Linked DNA regions of Homo sapiens: regions 1 and 2 are each reported to be linked to region 3. The links are microRNA targets in miRTarBase. Many come from high-throughput screens and were not tested one by one. Region 3 holds a microRNA gene; each other region holds the end of a gene's coding sequence.
What was found. Region 3 holds the annotated microRNA hsa-miR-1269a (CUGGACUGAGCCGUGCUACUGG, at 2,918-2,939, opposite strand). A microRNA usually pairs through its seed, bases 2 to 8, with sites in the 3' UTR of a target mRNA and lowers its output. Matches are read on the target gene's strand: a 7mer-m8 pairs with bases 2 to 8, a 7mer-A1 pairs with bases 2 to 7 and ends in A, and an 8mer does both.

Region 1 (6,718 bases), not on the chromosome of region 3:
CCCAATGCTATATCTGTACAGGGGAACAGGGTAAAAATAACCCTTCCTTCATATCAACTCCCATGTAAAAATCCCAACTTCTTGTCTACATGAGACACAAAAATGGCTTGAAGTTTTTAAAGGGAAAGGGAAATTTTTATCTTTGATACCAAGGTAAACAAACAGTATCCTAGTAAATGTATGTTTTTATATGGGCCTTAATGTTAAAGGAAGATACTCTATCCTCATTTCAAGATACTTAGTACAACTTCCAGCATCTTGTAATTCTTAGTCTTTCTGCCATCCAGCATCCATTTCCTAATCTGATTTCCTAGTGAATCTCATGTCTTCCTTGTAAGTACTGGGTTCTGCAGACTTCCACTCTACAGGTACTGTGACCTTCTGGTATTCTGCTTTTGTCTTTCTTTCCTCCTGGCAGGAAGGAACTGTTTCTGTAACTGATCTCAAAGATTCTCTCTCCCAGCTGTACATCCAAGATGTATTGTACAGTCCCTCCTTTACATCACCTAAATATTTTGGAAGCTCCAAGGTCCTGACTTCCCAGTTCCACCTCTTGCTATTTCTGCAACCCAGAATTAGTCACTTAAATCTATATTTCAGTTTTTTTAGGCATACAGTTGTAGCTATTAGTAGTACTAGCCCACAAGATTGTTGTTAAGATCAAGCGAATTAATACTGCAAATGTTTTACAGCAGTGCATGCAATAATAACAGTGCCTGTGCTAATAATAACTCAATTGTGTTATATATGATTGTTATTCCTCCATTGTGTAACTTATTTCCTCAAAACAGAGTCATGATCCAACTCAAAGACAAACTCTCATTTTAGGGCAGCCGAGACTCTTTCAATTTTTTGGTTTTGATCTATGTTCTTTGGGGACAAAATAGTGTCATTTTTCCCCAGTGCATCTCAATGCATGCTTCTCCAAAGGTCAGAACAGACTCCTTCCTATCTTGTTTCCAAAAAAAAAAAAACATTTATTTTTGTATGTTTGCCTTAGCTCATTTCCAGATTAAAGAAGAGAGCAGTGGCCTCAGCTCAGTGATTAATTACATGAACTCCTTACGTGGTATTCGACCAATATAAGCCCATTAAGAGAAAGGCTGGGTTCTTGTTGTGGCCTACTGAAGACTCTCTACTCTCATCTCCTGAAGAGCAGTAAGAGAGACCAATGACATGGAGTGGCGGAACCATAGTGGGAGAGTGAGTGAGTTTGTGTTGCTGGGCTTCCCTGCTCCTGCGCCACTACAGGTACTATTGTTTGCCCTTTTGCTGCTGGCCTATGTGTTGGTGCTGACTGAGAACACACTCATCATTATGGCAATTAGGAACCATTCTACCCTCCACAAACCCATGTACTTTTTTCTAGCTAATATGTCCTTTCTGGAGATCTGGTATGTCACTGTCACTATTCCCAAGATGCTTGCTGGCTTTGTTGGATCCAAACAGGATCATGGACAGCTAATCTCCTTTGAGGGATGCATGACACAGCTCTACTTTTTCCTTGGCTTGGGCTGCACTGAGTGTGTCCTTCTCGCTGTTATGGCCTATGATCGCTATATGGCCATCTGCTATCCTCTCCACTACCCAGTCATTGTCAGTGGCCGGCTGTGTGTGCAGATGGCTGCTGGCTCTTGGGCTGGAGGTTTTGGCATCTCCATGGTCAAAGTTTTTCTTATTTCTGGCCTCTCTTACTGTGGCCCCAACATCATCAACCACTTTTTCTGTGATGTCTCTCCATTGCTCAACCTCTCATGCACTGATATGTCCACAGCAGAGCTTACAGATTTCATCCTGGCCATTTTTATTCTTCTAGGGCCACTCTCTGTCACTGGGGCCTCCTATGTGGCCATTACTGGTGCTGTGATGCACATTCCTTCGGCTGCTGGACGCTATAAGGCCTTTTCCACCTGTGCCTCTCATCTCACTGTTGTGATAATCTTCTATGCAGCCAGTATCTTCATCTATGCTCGGCCAAAGGCACTCTCAGCTTTTGACACCAACAAGTTGGTCTCTGTACTGTATGCTGTCATTGTACCATTGCTCAATCCCATCATTTACTGCCTGCGCAATCAAGAGGTCAAGAGAGCCCTATGCTGTACTCTGCACCTGTACCAGCACCAGGATCCTGACCCCAAGAAAGCTAGCAGAAATGTATAGAAGGGATGTGTGAAATCTGATAAAATGCTATTAAACTTGGGATCAATGTGTTCTATGAAGTCCAGTGGAGTTCTTAGGGCCTAAATTGGGGGCCAGAGTTTCAAAGGCATCACTATGGAACTAGGAATACTTTCTTTAACTAGTCCAAGAGGAGAGAGAGGAATAGGTTGCAAGCTAGAAAATGGATTTCTGCAGGACAGGGCCATAAAATACAGGATAGAGCTGGGTCCACTATTGTCTGTCCCTTTGTAATTTGCATAGACAAGGTTCCAATCAAGGAAGCACAGGCTTCATTACGGAAAAGCAACACAAGACTTTTTGATAAGATCTCTATTAGGTAGCAGAGGCCCAGGAGATATCATTCTAGCGTGTGTTACAAGGCAAGGAGATAAGAAACTAGGAATTTTTGTTTTGGGAACATATCACCTATCAAAACATAATGGTTTCTAGGTTTATTTTCAAATTTACTGTGGTCAGTGTCCACATTGAACTAGTGGCTGAGTGCAGTTGTTTCATCAATACTCTGTCTCCCTGATTAGACTATAAGCACCATGGTGACAGGATCAGATTTTCTTTTACATCCTTTTATTACCATGGGCAGGAACAGTATCTAGTGCATGATGGCTATGAATATGTATAATGAATGAATATAGTTTGGAACCATGTAGGCAAGGCATGTGTGTCATGCCTATATGTGGGGTTGGCAGGTGCAGGAAGTAAACCCCTCATACTTTACTAGTATGCAGAGAGATACAAATTGGCTCAGCCTTGCCAGAAAAAAATTTTGAAAATATGTATTACAAATCCTAAAAATATTGCAACCATTCTGATTCGGAAAGATTTGTGCAGATAGACACTTTTACTTATAAATACAGAAACAAGGAAAGGAAATAAGCAAAATATGCTCAACTTTCGCAAACAGGGCACTGGTCAAATAAATTGTAGCTCATATGTTACATGGAAAACTATGCAGAAATTGAAATAAAGTGATCTAAATAGAGTTAATGAAAGAAAAAATATTTCTAACTTAATAAAAATATTATGTTATATAACAGTATCAAAAATATCAGCCATATTTGCTTGTTTAAACAAGACTAGAAGGAATATGACTAAAATGCTGGCTAGATAATGCTGGACTGCTTACACCTGTAAATTGCATTCTGTGGCTAAGCATTGCCATCAATATATTTATTTAAATGCTTTTTTTCTTAGCCCATATTATATATAACTTTATTTATCTGGACAGGGAGATGGATACAGGGTATGTCAGTATGATTTTCAGAAATTTAGCTCCCTACTGTCACCCGACAACCAGAACTCTGAAGACAGTGAAGATTCTATCTCCAGATATGGATCCAACTGTTGCTCAAGATGTGGGATCTAACTTTATTGCTGTATGTTACTTAATAAAATTTACAAAAGGATATTACCAAGGATATCATGCATTATTTGCTAGCCCATACTTATTAAAAGTTTTAATATAATGTGCATATCTATTTGTGCCTAAACAGTATAAGTATCTTGTTGTAATAATTTTTTAAATGACTGGATATAAAGTTCATCAAAAATCTACTGTCGAAGTGTCCCCGTAGAAGAAGTTTCTGAAATGGGGTTGTGATCAGGGATGGGAGAGTCCTCCTCTAGGCATTGTTATTACAACTCTTTTATAAACTCTTTTATAAGTTAACTCGAGTTAATAGGAAGTAAAAGCATAATGTTGAATTTCTTCATTGTGCTTTTCTTTTATTTTCCAATGCTTTAAAACACCTCTAATTCTGATTTCAAGTATTGGAATAGGGTTTAGCACAGTATTCCTCACATACTCACCTTTCAATAAACCACGAATGAGTTTGAGTCCCATGTACTATGGTGAGATTGACACCTCTCCAGACGGGGACTGAATTTTTAGTGAACATATGACCCTCAGGACTCATATTGAAATTGAGGTCACAAAACTTTGTAAACTTTTTCATGTGAAGTATTGATTATCAGATTAAGTATCCCCCATCCTCCATTTATGTAACTGATTTTTCCCATAAACGTAGATGTAGAACTTTATTTTATCCTTGTTCCATTTGATCCTGTTTGTTTTCGACCATCTTTGTAATCTGCCGGTCTTTCAAAGTATTGCTTAGATAATATAAGTCTTTTATAATTCCCCTTTGCTAATACAGTATCTGGAGAAGCTTCTAGTCTCTTGCATCAGTACAAGAGGTGGGAGTACTGGATCTACCCGGGTTATTCAGAGTGGCCAGAGGCAACTAACAACTACAGGCAAGTGAGGATTAATATAAATGACTTCTGTGCTCCAGGTGTCTAGTGGTTTCCAATGTTGAGTAAACTCCAGATTTCTCAGTCTGCCTTTTAAGTTTCTTCACAGCACATTCTTAATTTTCCTTTTTGTCCTTATTTTAATTTTTTGTCCACTACAAACCTTGTACAGGTGAATTCTAGATTGTGATTAACAATTTTTATTTGAGACTAATAAGCCAGTGTATTTCACTGTTTGCTAAAACATCACATTGACCAGGATCAGGAAACAAAAATCCTTCTTGATAAACAGCATTTTAAAAATAACAATTGTTCTGCAGCTCTGTAAACCCTATTTCCCTTCATTAAAAAACCCTTACAGTTATGAACAAGTAAAGACTGAGAAATATCAGATCAAAGCTTGTCAAAGAGACAAGATACCTATATGGAGTACGGTATATTGGATTGGACCCTGGAACATAAAGTAATACTAACAGAAAAGATAATAAAATCTGAATAAAATGGCAAAATCTGAATAGTTTAACAGTGATGTATCAATTTTGGTTTCTTATTTTGACAAGTATGTATGCTAATGAAGGATGAATATATTAGAAGAAACAAACTGAGAGATGGGTGTGTGAAAAACTCTCTTTAGCATCTTTGCAATTTTTCTGTAAGCCTAATATTGTTCCAAAATTTAGAAGTTTATTTTAAAAAGAAACACGTTGTTAGTTTTTCCTTACCAAATATTTTAAGAGAAGTTTGATTTATTTTACTGGCTTTCATAAAATAAAGATATATTTTCCCTTCCTTTATAGTTACAATAATATGTACAGCTAACACTTGACTTTTTTGAATATTTACCTGAATTTTTTTATTATCATGATATTCATGAATTGATGCTGTTTTTATTTAGCTAATTGATAAGACAGAGATGAAGTGAAGTATAATTAACAAAATTGATAAAGTTAGTGCTTTATATACTTAGCAACTCTAAAAAATTATGCCAGCTCTTTTGAATATCACCATTTGGTGCCAGCAAGAATAAGTGGACATCTCCGTGTGCTTGGTAGAGAAGCGGGCCTATAGGGCAGGTGTATTCATTTTCTCTTAGAAGCATTCCTCAGATCAAGATTGCCTTGTGTGATTTTCATGTTTCATAGTCACACTTCATGAAAACCAATGGCCCCCGCCTTCCCAGAATTAGTGACAATACACAATATGCCTTTCAACAAAGATTTTGGTTGGTTGGAGTGGGGAAAGAGCTAGGTCCGTTCTTCTCCACCAAATATCAGTCACACATAGGCCTTCAGATCCTCAAGGACTGGAGAACATTTTCTAAGACTTCTCATTTTTTCAGTCCCTTGCTTCAGCTCCCTGCAGCTAACTTTGGCTACTCACCAAGACACAAGTGCATCTCCTTGGCCTTTGTTCTTGCAAAACTTCTAGCAGTTGACTCCAGATTTTATGGTTACTTTTGGCACAATTAGCAGCAGAGACAGAAATAACTAGGCTGTGGATGACTTGATGGACAGAAGGGTCTGTCAGTTCACCCTTTTCTTAGCATGCAGGGCACACTTCACAGATGTTAATGTCTGAGTGCTTCCTGGAGTCCAAAGCAGTGGTGGGGCCTCTTGTCACTGAGGAGGAATTATTATCCTATAGCTTCACTGTTTGCTGTCATTACTCTGCGTTCCTTCCTGTTCTAGGCTGAAAGCCTAGAGGGCTCTACACTGCAAGTCGTCTCATCTAATTTGTACTATTCAAATCCTGGGTGTAGTTCATATTCCAGCAGAGGTAATATTTTACATTCCTATAATGAAGACAAAGCAGCTTTAGAAATGTTTTCAAATGATTTTTTATGTTTATTATTATGTATAATTTGCCCATAGTTTTCTTTTTTTTCCAACTTTATTGAGATATGGTTGACAAATATGACTAGAATGTATTTAAGGTATACAGTGTGATGATTTGATATACGTATACCCTGTGAAATGATGACCACATGCAAGCTAATTAACAGAGCAACATATCAATCACCTTACATACTTACCCTCTGTGCGTGTGTGTTGTGAGAACACGTGACATCTACTTCTGCAGCAAATTTCAAGTACACATTTTTATTAACTTCAGTCACCATGCTATATGTTGGAACCTCAGAAATTATTCATCTTAAAAATAAAAGTTTGTATCTGTTGACTAATATTTTTCATTTCCTCCCACAGTCACCCCAAACCCTTGGCAAACACCACTGTACTCTCTATTACTGAGTTAGACTCTTTTCTAGCTTCCGCATTAAGCAAAATTA
Region 2 (6,718 bases), not on the chromosome of region 3:
AAAATGACACATTCTAGTGAGTACCATGGTGTGAACGAAACAGTAGGTAGTGAGAGAGCATTCCTGGGTGTTCGGTGGAAAACTGCTGAGGCCTGGATGACAAGGAGGCCACCACCTGAATAGTTTAAGATACAATGTAGCTAGATTGCTATTTTATTGAATCTGTAGTTTACTCTCTTACACTATGGAAGAGATTCCCAGCATTGGTACAGTCAACCTCCATAATTTAGATGCCAATAGGGATACCGAAGGTTAATGGCATCATTAAATTGTAAAGACAAAATCCCTAATAATCCTTAAGGATTAGAATAGGGTTCCTCAACTTTGGCACTGTTGAAACATTTGGCCAAACAATTCTTTGTTGTCGGGGGCTGTCCTGGGCTTTGTAGGATGGTAGCAGCATCCCTGGTCTCTATCCACTAGATGCCAGTAGCACTGCCCCTTCCCCCACAGTGTATCTTCTGCCATTGCCAAATGACCCCTCTGGGGCAAAGTCGTCTCGGTCTGTAACCACTGGATTAAGGGAAACGATGCCTGCAAAGCCCCCAGTAGGAATTTTGGTCACTACCAGCGGCGTGTGTGTGACGAAGTCCTATTAGTAGAAATGCCCCCAGCTGACTCTCCAGCAAATATGTGCCAATTAGAGACATCTTTGCAAAGCTTCCAAATTGCAGACACTGCAAATGGCCCTCAGGGGTCTGTTAAATTATTATGACCTCTGATACTGATAGTAATAAAGCTGTGCTCTTTCTGCCTGTAATTTTAATATTTTACTAAACTACAGAGTCTCCTATAACAAGAGCTATATTATTATCCTCTACAGTGCTGTACTGTTCATAATTTAAATAATAATGTACATTTCCTCATCCTAAATTACTTCACACATTAAATAGTAGTTTTTACCGACACCATTACAATCCTATTTTAGTGTGCTACATTATTCTAATTCTGTGTTCCCTTCAATACTGCTCCTAAAAGGACGGCACATGGAGCCGGCCAGTCTTTAATTTTAGGACACATGGAGGTATCATTGCATTGTCTTGTCTATGCTGCATTTTAGTATTCTACCCTCAATAAATATTGCAATTGTTCTATTATAATTTTATGAATTTTACCTAGTATATACATACAATGAATTTTATAATTATACAAGTATATACATGCATATATGAAATAGTTCTATATTTTAGGAAGAACGTTGCTACACTATGATTAGCTATAGATACCTTCTGAATCTGTTACAAATTATATTGAATGTCACAGCCTATAACTTTAGTAACTAATTGTGCTATATAATGCTCTATTAAACTATATCACATTAATTAGTCATAAACTGTACATTTTAGTAAAATGTTCTCTGATAAGTTACCTTTGGATATGTTTGGTATCAATCATATTAATATTGCATACAGAAATCTCCTACTGCAAATTTTAGAAAGACAACATACTCTAGAATATCCTAAAGAGAGGGAAGAAACTATGAAATACTTGTTGGGGACAGTGGGATAGAAGTCGACTCAGGAAAGAATATGTCAGGCTGCTTACTGCTCTGCCCAGGTATGCTAGGCAGCCCAGATGTGCTCAGCAGCTCGGGTAGCCATAGAATGTTATGTGACTTGTGTATTCTAAGTGAGATACGGGGAGAAATGAAGACAGGGGAGGGCTGCTGGGCAGCAGACAGTGGCCTGGAAGTGGGAGGACAGGAATAGCAGCCGCACTCAGGGAGGTGAGTTGGCAGGCTGGTATTAGAGAGCAGGGAGTGGAGGCCAAGCAGTTTGGAGAGATGGCAATAAGATCAGTGGGTAGGAGACGCGGAGATGTTGTAGTACAAAGTTATTGGCAATTCATTCATCCATTCGAAGTACTTGATTGGCTGAGTGCCCTGACTCGGAAGCAAAATTGCCTGGCTTCTAATCCCAACTCTGCTCTTTTCCAACCATGTGACCTTTGGGAGCATGACTTTTCCCCTTGTGCCTCCATTTCTCCATGTGTATAATGATGATCAGAATCACACCTACTTCCTAGGTGTGCTGTGAAAATCCCACGAGTTAAACATGGAAGTCACTTCAAATAACACCAGGCAGAGAGAGTCAGATCACAGTAAACAGTAGGTGCTAGCTTTGTCACTGTTATTGGTGGTTTTAGTTGTATTATAGGCCAGGCACTGTTCTGGGAGCTGGAGATGAAGTCACGAACGATAGAGGAGTCCTTGACCTATGGAGCTGGAATACAGTAGGTGAAACTGAAAATAAAATGATTCCAGATACTGATGTAAAGGAAAAGTAAAACCAGAGGAGTGGGGCTAGGGGAGAAGAGCAGCTGTACCAGGGGTCTCTGAGGAAGGAATTTTTGAAGGGAGCGTGGATGTTGGGAAGGAGCAGCCACATGAAGACCAGGGTCCAGAGCCCTCCAGGCAGAAGGCACATGAAAAACAAAAGCCCTGAGTGGGCACCATGCCTGGCATTTTCAAAGGCTTGGAGGCAGAGCCATGGAGCACAGCGGGTCTGGGGCAGAGCAGCACAGGATGGTGTGGGAAAGGGAGGCAGAGTCTAGCCGAGTCCCTGTAGGTCCCACAGCTCAGCGGATGCCAACCTGGCTTCATATTAACATCACCTGGGGAGTTTTAACAAAAACTAAAATGCCTGGGTTCTGCCCCAGAGTTTTCGTTTGTTTGAGATGGAGTCTCGCTCTGTCGCCCAGGCTGGAGTGCAGTGGCGCGATCTTGGCTCACTGCAACCTCCTCCTCCCGGGTTCAAGCGATTCTCCTGCCTCAGCCTTCCGAGTAGCTGGGATTACAGGCACCTGCCACCATGCCCGGCTAATTTTTGTATTTTTAGTAGAGACAGGGTTTCATCACGTTGGCCAGGCTAGTCTCCAACTCCTGATCTCAGGTGATCCGCCCACCTTAGCCTCCCAAAGTGCTGGGATTACAGGCATAAGCCACCATGGCCGGCCTGCCCCAGAGATTTTTTGAAAGGTCCCTGAGTGATTCGAACACACAGAAGACTCAGAGAACCCCTGCTGTGGACTACAGTAAGGGATGTGTATGTTGTTTTAATTGTACTGGGCAAGGCTAGGATCAGATATTTGTTTCCGAAAAACTGCTCTGGTTGTTGTGTGGAGAACGGACTGTGGAGTGGGACTGGGTGGTCGCTGACAGTGGAAGAGAGGAGACTAATGAGGACATAGGTCTTCAGAGACCAGGGACGGGGGTGGTGACTGGGAAGAGGATGGCAGCAGTGAGGGGCTGGGAAAAGTGATGGTCAGGTTTGGTGTTTGAAGGGCACAGCTCGTGAGACTTGCTGCAAGGTGGGTTGCGGGGGAAAGAGCAAATTGGGTGGCCCCAAGGTTTGGGGTTGGAGTTGCGTCAGTGGGAAGAAAAAAGTTTAATGGAGGGGGATCGTGAGTTGTGCTTAGGACACATTAAGTTGGAGAAAATTATTCAATTTCAAAGTAGACAAACAAACAGGGTCCAGTTGCTTGAAGCTGTTGTGAGAACAGCGAATCAGAGGTGCCTGGTGGGTCAGTTACATGAATGTAATCGTGACAAGGGCATGAGGTGCAGTGTGACTCAAGGATGCTATATTTATGCCATAAACAGTTTAACAAAAATGACTCCATCGTTTAGAATGAGACTGGGAGTGGAATTATACGTAATTATATTACATGTATTTTGCATCATTTGCATTAAATTATGGGCATTATAACATAATATGCTTGACTTATTGTTGCCAGTTTTTAAGAACTGTAATGGAGAATCATAGGTTATGTGATGTTATTTTTGTTAAAAATTAATTAAAATATGATTTCTCTCTTATAAATCATCTAACTTGCTCTCTTTTAAAATCACCTAAATAATTTTCCTATAAATCACCTAGATCTGTGATAAATTCATCTCTCTCAGTATTAAGCTCAATTTTCCTCTGGTCATCACCTTAGGTATAAATAGAATGTCTTTATACTTGTAAATAGAATGTCTTTATACTTGTAACTTTATGGGTTTAGAGTCTTATCATCAATCATTCCAGCTTAATAAATTGTGGCTCCTTATCTGATATCAATGTGTCAGTGTAAATGTAATATATCTATCTTTATATTTGTATGAGCAACAAATGAATTTATTCATTTACCAAGTGCACAGAGTGAGTAACATCAATTGTCACAATTCTATAGCTCCATGGCTGTTGAAAGTTTGGCAAGTTTGCCTGTTACAGTATTGTGATGTTGAGAACAAACAAACAGCACTGGAGGCATAGTAATTTAATTTTAAAAGTTATAACAACAAACAACAAACAATGTAGTGGAATCATTTTAGTATAAAGCAGTACAGTGACATCAGTTTTTCTAAAATATCAAGAGGATAATGTGCCCCTTTTTAAAAGAGTTTAAGTAAGTAAGTAGGATTCTCTGGATAACTTTTAGATGTCGTCTGTCCTATAAAGTAAGGCATTCTCTACTCTGCCTAGGCATGGAAATTATTTCACTTTATTTAGTAACCATGATCCAGTGAAATCTGTTTTCTTTGGGTCAAGAGCCAGCGTTTAGAAATGCTTGCTTACATGTCTGGGTAGTTTCATCTCATCATACTTGAGATCTAATTTCATATCTTGTTTATGGGGAAAGCCAGAAGCCAAATTTGTAATCATTGTTCTTTTCCTCCTTCAAGTCTCCTCAGACCGAATTCCTAGGATTTATGACTTCTTTATTTCTATTCCCAAATAATTCACCACTTGAATATGATGAAAGCTTGTGTTTGCATCCAAATTATGATTTTCATTGAAGTTTAGTTCAACAAAATTCACGGTTCTATGTAATAAACTCTTCCCATGTAGATGATATTTTGATATACTTCTATAAATATTTTTATAACTGAGAGTGAGTGAAGCATCTAAAAACAGTTGTTAAATATGTGCCTAGAATCTGCTTTAGAACAAAGGCTCTGCCAACAGCCATCATTTCCTGGTTTCTGGAATGGGGACCTTTTCCCCCATGCATTGTTTTCAGTTGGTGTTCTTAGCAATAAAGTGATGATAAAATCCAAACACGGAGATTATGATTTTAATATACTTTATTTAAAAAGTACACAGTTTTAAATTGGTTTCAATAGGTTTCAAGCAGAAGGGACACTGCCTACCACTTGCGGTCCCATTTCTGATGAAGGGTGATTATCATGTGGCAAACTCACATTTGCATGACTGGCAAAGTAAAAAGATGATAGATAACTTTTTGTCAACATATCTTTAAGAGTTTATATCACGCACAGTTTAAAATCATGATGAGATGCTGATGGTTGGACTATATTCATGTCTCGTATGTTGCACCATATTTTGGTTCACAGTTTATCCATGATTTAGCATGCCAAGAGAACATCTCAGTCAGTAAGAGAACATCTCAGTCAGTGTCACCTTGAGAAGAGCATCAAAAGCAGAGGGAGCAGAAGGAGGACTGTCTGGGCTTGGAGACTCGGCGCACCCCCACACTCCCTTGCATTCTCCTATGGGGAAAGGCAGGGGTTGGTTAGACGGAAATAGACTCCAGGACACCTTCAACTTTCCCCAGACCTCTCTCCCCCTCTCTAACGTAAGAACGAAGTCTTCTGGGACCTAGATGATGGTGCAGATTCAGTTTACTGAATGAAAGGGATTATTTTCTCATGAGTGAACTTTTCAGCTGTAGTTCTTTGACCAGTGTGAGACTCTCGTGGTGATTCTGATGGGAAAAGGAAACAGGAACAGTTCTCAGACTTACCTCAGGATGGAAGCCATGACAAGATTCTGGGCGCCTTCTGATCTTCTGGGCCTTTAGACGTTCACACTTAAGGGATTCATTATGTTGACTGTAGTTAAGGCATGTTTCCAAGGATTGCTTTTTTCTACTCTGCATTTCAGAGGTCAAAATTTGGCAATGACAACTCTCTTAACTACTCTCTCTCTCCAACAGTGGAAAGGATGTAATTTTCCTTCTCTAATATTTCTCCCCCAGGTTTCCTTACCACTGATACCCCTTACTGGTTTCCGTGGTAGTGAGTGGACCTGCACACAAAAGGATATACCTGATTTCAATGGGTGCCATGGTGATGGGGGCCACAGATTCACAGAGGCAGCTGCTGTCCACCACCACCATGAACAGGTTGCTGCTTGGGATTTGCTGGATGACAAAGGACCTGTTGGAACAAGAGGTAGCGAGGCAGTCATTTACCATCCGTCAATTAAAGAGCCATGAGGAAGACTTCTCTCCTGGGTGGTAGCAACTACCATATTTTGTAAAGCAAATTTTGGAGACTATTTTACTACTAATGTTACCTTCTTTCTCCATGAGGCTCTTCACTTACAAATACCTAGCTTCACTAGGAAAACAACAATAGCTATGACGACATGCGGCTCATACAACTCACCTTGGAAAGACTGAAGTGCTGTATGTACAAAACACAAGAGTCAGAGTTGGCTGAATCACCTGTTCCCAAGGTTTAAGAGGTCAGACTTTCAAAGCCTAATTTCCTTCTCCCAGAGCCTAAACATTACCCCAAGTTACATTTGATGTTCCTCTAAGTGGCGTTTTCTCTCCTCCTTCCCTCAACGATAGACTGAAACTATGTCATACCAATGGCAAAAGAGATAGTGAACTTCTTAGAGCCTTCCTTATACTGCTTTGCACAACGTCTGCCCAGTATACAGGAACAGTGTTTTGAATGAGATTAATGCTAGTCATTTATGAGGTC
Region 3 (6,718 bases):
AAATATATCTTATATTTCAAATAGAAACATATCTTATATTTCAAATAGAAATATATAACTTATAGTTCAAAACAGCACAGGAAACAAAAAGACATTTCACTGTGCTTGGATAACATAATTTTTATGTTATCAAATTTTAGAAATTGGTTGAAAATGGTTTTATGGCCTGAAATCTCCACATTTTTATATGAAGATTTATATTTATTTATTTATTTTTGCTTTATCATGCGTGATGTACAACGTACTCCCCTTTAAGTGACCATTTGTGGTTTTAACATTTCTAAAAATTTCTCAGCCAGTATATCTCAGTGGCCCAATACATAATTTTCTTCCCTTCTCAGACACTAATTAGATACATACTATACTTTTATTCTATTATTTATTTCTATGGTTTAAGCATGTCTCAAAATTCCATGTGTTGGGAATGTAGTCTTCAAATTTATATGTTGACTTGAAGTGGTGACTTTGGGAGGTAATTAGAATTAGACAAGATCATAAGAATGGAGCCCCTGTGGTAGGACTAGTGGCTTTGTAAAAAGAGGAAGAGAAATCTGAATGGGCACACTCTTGGCCTCTTGCTATGTGATTCCCTCATTATGTTCTGACACAGCAAGGAATCTTTTACTAGATACCAGAAACATGCTCTTGAACTCTCCATCTCCAGAACCATGAACAAATCAACATTTATTCCTACAAATCATCAGTTTGCAGTATTCAGTTTTAGCAACGGGACACAGATTAAGACATCTACATGTCTTGTTAACTTTTTTCAAGTTATCCATTTTTATTTATCTTTGCTACAATTTTTTTCTGTTTAATGTTTCAATCCATGAATTCTTTCTTCAAATTTTATTTCTTTAAGCACATTAAATATGTATTTTATGATCTTTATCTTATCCCCAAACCTGATTTTCCGGCAAATGTGAATATTAAAAAGTGGGCAAAGGACATGAACAGACACTTTTCAAAAGAAGAAATACATGTGGCCAACAATCATACTAAAAAACGCTCAACACTACTGATTATTAGAGAAATGATAATGAAAACCACAATGAGATACCATCTCACATCAGTCACAATGGCTATTATTAAAAAGTAAAAAAAAAAAACAGACGCTGATGTGGTTGTGGAGAAAAAGGAATGCTTATACACTGTTGGTGGGAGTGTAAATTAGTTCAGCCATCATGGAAGACCCCGTGACAATTCCTCAAAGACCTAAAGTCAGAACTACCATTAGTCCCACCACCCCATTGTTGGGTATATGCCCAAAGGAATATAAATTGTTCTATTGTAAACACAAATGCATGAGTATGCTCATTGCAGCATTATTCATAATAGCAAAGACATGAAATGAACTTAACTTAAATGCCCATCAGTAATAGGCTGTATAAGGAAATTGTGGTACATATACACCATGGAATATCATGCAGCCATAAAAAAAAACAGAATGAGATCATGTCTTTGCAGGGACATGGATGGAGCTGGAGGCCATTATTCTTAGCAAACTAATGCAGAAATAGAAAACCAAATATCACATGTTCTCATGTATAAAAGGGAGCTAAATGATGAGAACATATGTACATGTAGCGGGGAACAACACATAGGGCATAATGGAAGGTGGAAAGTGGAGGGTTGGATGAGGGAGAAAATGAGGAAAAAAAAACTAATAGTTACTAGGTTTAATATCTGAGTGAAGAAATAGTCTGTACAACAAAACCCCATGACAAAAGTGTACCTATATAACAAACCTGCACACGTAACCCTGAACTTAAAAGTTTTTAAAAAAGAAAAAGAAATAGAAAAGGAAAACATTTATATTATTAATGATGATAATAGCGCTGCTGCTGATTAACAGGATACTTATTAATCTCATCTATTATGTGGGTTAGTAAGCAATGCCACAGAGATTTCTGAAATGCTAACCACTTATGAATAACTTCCCAATTACTTTTTCCTTCATCAACTGCTGGGAATTTTCTGTGCATTTCTTTGTTCCTCCTCATATTTTATTTTATCTTCCCATTGATTGACCTAAAACTTCATCCTTCTCAATACCATATGACCAAAACAAAAATGAAGTGAAAAAGTGAACAATATTAGAGTATTGACTAATCTTTTTATTAAAAATATCAAAAGCTGAAAAACTTAATAACAGGACTGATGGAGTTAACTATATCATTCAGATATGGTGCACACGTGTCAATCTGAAGACTACTTTGCTCTTCGTGACTTCAAAAAGTAGCACACTGAGACTTCTCTATGTAATTTCCTTTTTTTAATGTCCTAGGATGCTCATATAACCACAGTGGAATCTAATGCATATACACGTCTTCTTTTGAGAGCTATGTGTACATTAGTGAGGCTTTAGTTTTCTTGGAAACATTATACAGTGAAGCAACCAAATTGTTTCAAACATTGCTGATTAACAGGAAACTTGGAGAACATGAAACTTGTTACCAAACTAGGAAGTGTCCGGGAGTATAATTTATATACACCACAATATGCTGCAAGTGTGTTTCATGTTATCCTCATTGTTCCTTCCATGCATCTTCTTTTTAAAATGCAATCACTCCTTAAATGAAATTTTTTCTGGAAATATTCATCAGGAAAATATTACAATGATGTCCCATAAATTTCGGCCTCATTTCTAAGTGGTACTATAAATTTTTGGCTTTATCTTTTCATTTGAATGGTATTTAGAAAGTCTTCTTAAGTATATTTGGAATCCGAAGAGCTTCATCGTTTGAAATGTACTGTTAAAGGTTAATGACTGTTAGTCAGGGTTCCTAGGGAGGTAGAACATATAGGATATGGAGATAGTTACATTAGAGAAGATTTATTAGCGGAATGGGCTCCCATGATTATGGAGGCTGAGAAGTCTCATGATAGGCCATCTGCAAGCTGGAGACCAGGGAAGCCAGTAGCACGGCTCAGTCCAGGCATTCCTCAGGTGGTCAGACTTGGACTGAGCCATGCCAACTGGCTTCCCTGGTCTAGGCAATCCAGTGGTATGAATTCAGTCCCAGGTCAAAGGCCCCAAAACAGAGCTGCTGTTGTGAGCCCCAGAGTCCAAGAGCTGGAGGAACTGGAGTTCTGATATTCAAATGCAGGAATAGAAGAGCCTCTTGCTTTGGAAGCAAGAAAGAGAGCAATAGTTTGTCCTTCCTTTGACTTTGTTTTCCATCTGGAACCCCAAATAGGATGGTTCCTTTCTACACTGAGGGAGAATCTTCCTCACTCAATCCACTGACTCACATATCAATCTCCTCAAAAAACACCCCCCCCGACACACCCAGAAACAATACTTTTCCAGCTAAGTATTCCTTAATCTAGTCAAGTTGACACCTAAAGTTAACCATTGCTGATTTTCACATAATTATTAAAAATAAAAATCATTGAATGAAGTTAAAAGTAATGAATGTATGCATGAAAATGATACAAATAATTCAATTAGGAAGTCCACCTAAGATACAATTTAGGATTGTAAACTTACACTTAAGGTCTTAGTGAAGCATAGTTCAAAAAAAAATTTTTTTTTTGCGGGGTGGGGGAAGTCATCATTTATTTGTCTTTTACATGAAAACAGATTTGGGGGAGGGAGAAGCATAGTTTTTATCAAATTCTTTCTTATTTAGAAGTAACCTTCATAGCCTCTGAAAATAAAATTCCACATTACCATTTTTAAAATGATTATTTCCAAATGCTTGGCAATTTCTGGGAACTTTAGAACCTTCATCCACTACATTTTAAGTTAACACAGGTATTATCAAACAAATATGCCAGTCACTTCAATCTTTTATACAAACATTAATAAGTAAAGACAAAAAAAATTTCCTAGCATGAAAGAATCATGAGACACAGTATAATACCACTTGGAAGTACAACAGTGGAACTCAACATGAGCCAATCTCAGCTCATCAGCATTGCCATGACTGCAATGCTTCACTTTGTTTTATGAGCTACCTAGAGCCAGATGCTATAAAATTGCTGTGAGGGATTGCCTACTAGGGACTTATGTAGGCCATGCCAGGAGTAACACAGTGGTCTCTTTATACTACTATCCATGTAATAAACATTCTGTACAGCAGAGTTTGGGAATGTAGGAAGTGTTTTTTAAATTATGTCCTAAGAAAGCATTTGTCCCAAACACTAATATTCATTCTACCACACAATTCCTTAGAAATCTCATTCAGCATTGCCACACATGTTTGCAATAATAGCAATTTTGCTGGCCAGTGTTCTCAGGACCGACAGCACAAACATCTATGCTGGCAGAGTAGGCAGCAACCATCACGTGTTTGGTTGCTTGATTCCAGGCAGTTTACCTCATTTGTAAATAGGACTCACGGCCAGGAATTCTGGTTTGCAAGTTCTCTCACCTCGTTTGGAAACATTTAATTCATTCTAACAATCTGTCTGGTGTACAGAAAGAAAACAATGTTCTAGTGCATCCTGCCATTTCTTTGAACAGCCACATTCCATATTTTACTTCTTTTTTTCTCATTTTCTATAGAGTTGATGAAGCAAAGCTCCCCAGTGGATAGGAGCTTGTGATTTATATGAAAACAAGCACTAAAATTCAATGTAAATAGATACACCTTTGGGAAAACTTTGGGAAGCTTTGAGAAAGATATCAATCAATTATTTTTTTAAGTACCAAGGTTCATCTCATGAAACCACACATTAAATAAAAGCCTGTGTTTTTGGTTTAGCGCTAATTTCACCGGAACATCCTGTGGTGAAGAGTCTATGATTATTGTGCCCATACTTCTTCAGAGAAATAAAATGAAAAAACAGCATCCCTTTAATTTTTTATTTTATAATTTCTATTTGGGTCTATTTGGATATAATTTATAAATCCATAAAGTCTACTTGGTACATTTAAAAGTTGTTTTAACTGTGATCAAGTAGTATTAACCAAAATGGAATAAATAATTTTTTTTAAAAAGTTAGTTTATTTTGGTCCTTAGTATCCTGAGCAATCCATTGTAACAATACAAGCTGACTTCAAAATCCAACTGAACTCATTTTTTAAAAATGAGCAATAATAGGTCTTATATAATAGAATTGTGAGAAATTGGAGGTTTTACTAAAAGTGTTATTTAGATGAGAAAATTATAGCCTCATATTAGCACATCTGCACCTTGACAATCAAATGCATGAGTGCATTATAATTTCAATGAATTATGCAAAATGCTAATTAAAAAGTTGAATTTACTAATCATCTCTCAGGGTCATAACTGGAATTGAATTTGAGTAAGGACGAACAATTCCATGAAGTGCATTTTCATCGTGTAGTCTTTAAAGCTGTTTAGAAATGCATACCAGAAAAACAATTTTTGTTTCTATATAGATGCTAATTGATTTTGCTGTGTTCAACCTATCAGAAATTATTGATTACTCCCTTATAAATTATGGCTATATACTGTTACCATGACTTTCAGAAAATGGTGCATTATAAATATACCTAATTATAATAAATGTAGGCTTTGCATTTTAAATTTTGAACTAGTTAAGCAGTAGAAATTTCTCATATAATTTTCTATACCTACTATTCACCTTTCAAGCATAAAGCATATTATAAAATGGTTTTATGTATTTCCTATTTATGATATTTTCAATTTTTAGCCCTTTAAAGACATATTTCAAAAATGTACTCATGTTTACTTCTAATCATTATTTGGAACATCTGGATATTATAGAACACAGTACTATAATTTTTGAGATAGCTATATTCACAACAGATGAATAATTAGGTAGATTAAAAATATAATTTTGCACAACTGCATTTTAAATATAATGTAATAGCTTCAGTGTCTCTTCAAAATTTTAATTTAATATTTAGAAGTATTCTGCTTCTATTTGTCATCATATCATTTTTTTCAAACAAAAGCTATAAAAATATAAGATAAAATGATTTGACCCTTCTTCTGCCTACACAACCTTCCCCACTTTCCAAGGGCCAGATGAAGTTCTACATTCTTGTGAACTGAATGGATAGGAATAAAATGTTATCCAAAAACATTCCCACTCATCAAAGGATTGGTGTATCCTACTGGAACAAAATAAGTAAAGTAAAATTAAGACAGACTGCCAATAGCTCCTCCAAAATACTAAGACAATGTGTCTCATATGAGAAAACATGAATACACATGTTGAATTAAATTCAGGTCACTGGATTCATTAAGTTCAAATTTGTTATAGAACTTCAATGCTTCTCATTAAGTATCTGAAATTTACTGTTAATTTTGAGATGACTTTGGCAGTCAATGTATAATTTTGTCTAGTGAAGTCCTACTTTCAGGATTACTTTGGCAATGCTTCTTTTGATTATTAAATTTAAGTGCTTATTACCTGCAATTCTACAAAATGTTTAATGTTCCAAGACAGTATTTGTAAAGATACAAAACCTCTGTGTTACAAGGACAAGGTAGATTCTGCCAGACATTTTAATGCCGTTGCTGGTCACTCAAGCTATAATTGGCTCTAATTAGCTCTCTCATCCAGCTGTAACATTCTTTACCTGCAGCTGAGAGGCACTCAGGAGAGTGGAAAAACCACTCCTATTGAGTGTTTGGAAATATCAGCTAAATTCCTGCCACTATGATCATTATAAATGAGCTGCAAACCCATTAGCTCTGATAGGAAATTTGTTGTGGGAAGGAGATTTGATCCAAACTAGCCCTACAATAATAGTAATCAATGTCCAATGAAAACA

Region 1: miRTarBase lists OR6A2 as a target of hsa-miR-1269a. Seed matches in the 3' UTR shown: 7mer-A1 at 2,302-2,308.
Region 2: miRTarBase lists CACNA2D3 as a target of hsa-miR-1269a. Seed matches in the 3' UTR shown: 7mer-A1 at 5,291-5,297.

What each region holds. Positions count from the first base shown.
Region 1 is chr11:6,790,167-6,796,884 of GRCh38, reverse strand. OR6A2 (olfactory receptor family 6 subfamily A member 2) reads left to right here. Exons shown (of 2, transcript NM_003696.3): 2 at 1,001-5,149. The coding sequence starts at 1,177. The coding sequence ends at 2,160. OR2AG1 (olfactory receptor family 2 subfamily AG member 1) reads right to left here. Exons shown (of 2, transcript NM_001004489.3): 2 at 5,327-6,718. Among named protein-coding and RNA genes, the nearest start is that of OR6A2, 6.2 kb to the left of the region's middle.
Region 2 is chr3:55,072,890-55,079,607 of GRCh38, reverse strand. CACNA2D3 (calcium voltage-gated channel auxiliary subunit alpha2delta 3) reads right to left here. Exons shown (of 38, transcript NM_018398.3): 36 at 6,051-6,163; 37 at 5,749-5,831; 38 at 5,051-5,494. The coding sequence ends at 5,402. Among named protein-coding and RNA genes, the nearest start is that of LINC02017, 100 kb to the left of the region's middle. RefSeq lists a silencer at 1-225.
Region 3 is chr4:66,273,111-66,279,828 of GRCh38, reverse strand. It overlaps MIR1269A (microRNA 1269a), which reads right to left and starts at 3,005; the gene lies at 2,901-3,005.